Regions from separate parts of the Homo sapiens genome. Here region 2 is linked to region 1. The links come from fine-mapping of genetic effects on gene expression. A gene starts in region 1. The other region holds a variant in brackets. All regions are shown on one strand. Distances are from middle to middle.

Region 1 (2,500 bases):
CATGAGGAACTGGGAGCAGGCGAGAGTGTTTCATGCAGAAGCAACAGCAGATACAAAGGCTGTGAGGTGGCTGAGTTTGACGTGGTTAGGAACTTAACGAAGGCTAGTGTGACAGGAGCTTAACAGAGCCGGGAGAGTGGTAGTAGGTTACATTAGCCATGTATTTTTATATCAACGGCCTAACCCTTAAGCCAGGCAGCTGTTGGGCAAATTCGTGTTCCCAGTCTTCAGGGGCCTTGCTCAGAACAGGTAGCTGGTTTAGCACTGTCAGTCAGAGGAGGGACTGGGCCTGATCCTTTCCCCTGCGTCTGGTGCCAAGGACAGGGTAGGGCACAGAGGTTTCAGTCAAGATCTGCTGACAGCACGCTTGAGAAGAGAACAGGAAGTGCAGGCTTTGTTGAAGGAGGCTCAGGCGTGGCTCTGTCTTCTTTGGCGCACTCATTCTCAAGTCGCTGACACCTCCTCCACCAGAGAGGTAGCTGGGAGAATGAGATGCAGGGAGGAAGCATTTACAGGCCCCACCGAAAAACCTTAAAGGGCTGAGAGCTTGAGGGCAGGTAGGAAAAAGGGCTGTGAGAGCTAAGGGAGGGCATCCCACTTAGCTTGGAGGGGAAGGGAGGCGGGGTCGGGAAAGCAGATGGCACCCTTTAGCCCAGACTCAAGGAATGTGTAGGGGAATTTTAGCTAGAGTGGTTTGGACATTTCATTTTGCTTTCTGGCATCATCATTTCCTCAGAAAACACTCGCAGGCCCCAGTGGCCCTCGTGGGCCTCCCCCGGGGCGGGTCTTAGCTTCACTCGGCAACCCTCTGCAAAAGAGCAGGCCCTCCCAGGAGCGCCGAGTCCTGTCTGCAGTTTGCTGATTTTCCCACCAGGGGCCGCTGCGCATGGGCGACGAAGCGCGCGGGTTCCCAAGCCGCAGAGAGGCGGAAGCCGATTGGTTGTCAGGCGAGGCGCGAGGGCGGAGCCTGGGAACTGGCCGGGAGTTGGGGGCTGGGAGCTCGCCCCCGGGCCGAGCCGGGTCAGGCTGTTGTCGCCTCAGGCAGCTCCTGGGAGGCTAACGTCGTGTCCTGGGCCTCTGTTTAGACAGCTCTAGAACTGAGGCGAGTGGAGCAGCACCAAGGCCCGGAGATCGGGGCAGGGCAGCTGCTGTCGCCGCCGCCGCAGGCCTGAGTTACCTGAGTAACTGCGGGTCAGGGACCCGCCCGACGGCCCGCGGTTGGCGCTGGAGACTCTCGGTGGGGAAAGGGAAGCTGGGACTTGATCCTTTGCGCGGGATCCTGGCAAAGACTAGCGCGGGCCGGGGGTCCGGGAGAGCCCGCTAGGGGCGGGGATTCCGGGGAGCCGTCTTCACCGGTTATTCCGGGATCCAGCTGGGCGCTGGGGCTGGCCCGGGCTTCGCTGGGGACCGGGCGGCGCGGGGCGGGCGCGGAGACGCACGCCCCCGCCCGCCCCGGGCCCGCCCCGCGCCGCCCGCCCGCCTGGAAGCCGCTGTCCTGGGCCTGGCCGGTGTGCGTCCGCCTGCTGGACCTGGGCACCGCCAGCCGCCTGGGCACGGGACTGGGCGGGGGCGCTGACCTCGGCCTAGGAGGCCCAGGATCCCGGAGACGCCCGCGCCCTCAGGACCCTGCGGGTCGCACGCCCTCCCCAGCTTCTGCTGCTCGCCGCTCTTCGGCAGGGCGAGGTCAGGTGCCCCCTTCTCGCCTCTCTTCTCTTCTCTTCTCTTCCTCCTCCACTTCTGTGCCCGCGGAGACTCCGGCCGCCCCCTTCCGCAGGGGTGTAGTAATCTGCGGAGCTGACAGCAGCCCCGCAGCCACCCTGCCCGAAGTCTCCGGAAGCGGCACGAGCTCAGGCCGCCGCAGCCCCGGCGGACCCACTGTTGGACCTGAGGAGCCAGCCCTCCTCCCGCACCCAAACTTGGAGCACTTGACCTTTGGCTGTTGGAGGGGGCAGGCTCGCGGGTGGCTGGACAGCTGCGGAGCCGCGAGGGCATCTTGCCTGGAGACCGTCGGCTGCACTCCCGGGCTCCTGGCTTTGCCTCTGGGATCCCGAGGTGTCCACATCAGACGCATGTTGACTGAGACCTAGAGTCATGGATGTATGCGTCCGTCTTGCCCTGTGGCTCCTCTGGGGACTCCTCCTGCACCAGGGCCAGAGCCTCAGCCATAGTCACAGTGAGAAGGCGACAGGAACCAGCTCGGGGGCCAACTCTGAGGAGTCCACTGCAGCAGGTAAGGCCTTGCTGCGGGCTGGACTGGGCTGGAGGCTTTGGCTCAGGACTGAGTGGCCCGAAGTGGGCAAGTTGAAATCTAGGTTTGTACATGTGAGGTTCATGGAGGATTCACACATGGCACTGCCTGTTCCAAGTAGTTCAAGAAGTTCTTTCTGGTCAGTAGTCATGGCAAATGCCTGTATCTTTCCTGAACAACTTTCCTCATCCCCCGCACTCAGGATTTTTTTTGTTGGCAGTAAGAAGAAGCCTTTGGGGCAACTTGACCTTT
Region 2 (2,500 bases), 130 kb after region 1:
AGGTAGGACTACAGGTGTGCACCACCACACTAGGCTAACTATTTTTGTAGAGACAGGGTCTTGCTATGTTGCCAAGTCTGGTATTGAACTCCTGGTCTCAAGCAACCCCTCACCTCAGCCTCCCAAGTTGCCGGGGATTACAGGTGAGAGCCACTGCACCTTGGCTACCTTTGTTAATTCTCTGGACATACCTCCTACCGCTTCGGTCTGGCTCCAATCTTCTTTGTCTTATAAACATTTTATGTTTATTTCCAGTCCCCTTTCTTTGCTCAGGTAGTTCTCCTTACCTGGAATTAACCTCTTGTGCCCCTCCCTGCACCCCTAGCCCTGTCTGTATCAATCTTAGTTGTCCTCTAGAATGTGCCAGCTTCATTTTATATGAACCTTCCCTGACTTTCCCATTCCTACTGATCTTCCTCATCTCAATACTAACTCCCATAGTACATAGTCTCTATCGCTCGATTTAGCACTTAATTAGAAATTGCCTTGCTTTGTGCCCTAATGATTTTGATTGTATTGTTTTGTCTATAACTTTGTGTTCCTGCACTAATACTGGCATTATTAAAGCACAACTCATCAGATTACTTCTACCATGTGCCAAGCCAAGCTGATTACATATAAAGTTTTGTTTAATCCTTAACCACTCTGTGAACTAGGTGTTATTAACTCCATTTTAGAGATGATAAAACTATAAATGAGTGGCTTACTTTTGCTTGTTTAATTAATCTAAACTCTGCTCTGTCATTCAATGCTCCCACCATTTGGCTTTAGCTCATGCTGCTAGTTCATGTTATACTGTATTTCCTTACTCTATGCTATAGCCACCCCAGACATGCTCTTCATATCTTATCACTGTGCCCCTGTTCCAGATAAATCCTTATCCTGGCATTTCTCTGCTTCCCACTTTGCCTGTAAAAATCAAGCCAGGTTTGGTGGTTCATGCCTATAATCTCAGCTACTTGGTTGAGACAGGAGGATCGCTTGAGGCCAGGAGTTCTAGACCAGGCTGGGCAACATAACAAGACCCCATCTCTTTAAAAAAAAAAAAAAAAAACCCACACATTTCAGTGCAATGCCTGGAACAAAACAACAACAACAACAACAACAAAAAAAAACAAATAGAAACAAAAGGAAAAAGAAATTTCATTTGTCCACCAAGGCCTAGATCAGGGTTTCGGAACCTCAGCATTATTGATATTTTGGGCCAGATAGTTCTTTGTTGTGGGGAGCTGTCTTGTACATTGTAGGATGTTTAGTAGCATTCCTAGCCTCTACATACTGGATGCCAGTAGCAAACCTTTCCCCTTCCCCCTTCCAGTTTGACAACCAAAAATATTGCCAGTTACTATTGTCAGTTGTCAATTTTCAAACTGCCCCTTGTTGAGAACTACTGGCCTAGATTAAATGTTGCTTCATCCAAGAAATATATATATATTTTTTGGAGACGGAGTCTTGTTCTGTCGCCCAGGCTGGAGTGCAGTGGTGTGATCTCGGCTCACTGCAACCT[C/G]TGCCTCCCAGGTTCCGATGATTCTTCTGCCTCAGGCTCTCTTTCATCATGTTGGCCAAGCTGGTCTTGAACTCCTGACCTTGTGATCCATCTGCCTCGGGCTCCCAAAGCGCTGGGATTATAGGCGTGAGCCACCACGCCCAGCCAATCCGAGAAATCTTGTTTGTTCTCCTACAGTGGGAAGTAATCCTTTCTCATGTTCGAGAGTACTTGGCATGAACCTTATGTTTGTCATGTTGCTCTGTTCTGTATTGTAATTGGGTCCATCCTTAACTGTCCTACCAGATTTTGAGTTCCTTTAGGGGTCATGAACTAGGTTTTATTCATTGCTGTTTCTCATAACATTGTGTTTGGTTCAGGACCTTTCTCTTAAGGGTGCTGAGTTGACGTTATTTTTGAATTTTGAATTCGAAAACAAAGATACTATCTTATTGTTTTATGCCCTTTAAATAGTTTCTCTAGTGCAAAGGAGGAGTACAGAGTGGGCTGGTCAATGGTACTGGGGACAGAGTGCTTTGGACTTGTGAGTTCCCTGTCAGGATAAAAGCTGAAGTCAGTGTTGGGTTGTTTTTCTGGAGTTGCTATAGTCTGGGCTCTAGATATGTTAGTATATGACCTATACGTCTGACCTCCTCTGTGACCTTCTTCCCTACCCTTCTGCCCTATGTTATGAATCATGTGCAGAATCTGGATGGAGGTAAGATTACTGTACTTAAAATGATAGGAAAGACTTTAAGAATAACACATACTATAGGAGCACAAGTGAAGAAAAAAAGGAAAACACTGAGAATGCCCAAAGGCTATGTAGTAGAGCAAAAGTATGTACTTATAAAGCAAGAAAGATAGTTTCAGGTATACTTTTGCCAATTATTAGTTGTTTGACTTTGGAAAGTTTCTCTCTCTCTCTGTCTCTTTCTTTTCTTTTTGTTTCTTTTTTCTTTTCTTTTCTTTCTTTTTTGTTTTGAAATAGAGTCTTGCTCTGTCACCCAGCCT

The links.
Region 2: its variant is fine-mapped to the expression of STIM1 in whole blood (TOPMed, PIP 0.98).

What each region holds. Positions count from the first base shown.
Region 1 is chr11:3,854,180-3,856,679 of GRCh38, forward strand. STIM1 (stromal interaction molecule 1) reads left to right here and starts at 1,485. Exons shown (of 13, transcript NM_001382567.1): 1 at 1,485-2,230. The coding sequence starts at 2,092. STIM1-AS1 (STIM1 antisense RNA 1) reads right to left here and starts at 1,399. Exons shown (of 2, transcript NR_183662.1): 1 at 1,178-1,399; 2 at 144-479. It overlaps MIR4687 (microRNA 4687), which reads left to right and starts at 1,883; the gene lies at 1,883-1,962. RefSeq lists enhancers at 461-530, 740-1,685, 1,901-2,110, 2,261-2,340, 2,351-2,400 and silencers at 871-920, 1,401-1,460, 1,521-1,680.
Region 2 is chr11:3,979,575-3,982,074 of GRCh38, forward strand. All of the region lies in intron 2 of STIM1 (stromal interaction molecule 1), which reads left to right. Among named protein-coding and RNA genes, the nearest start is that of PPIAP40, 87 kb to the left of the region's middle. The variant C/G (reference allele first, on the strand shown) is at 1,508.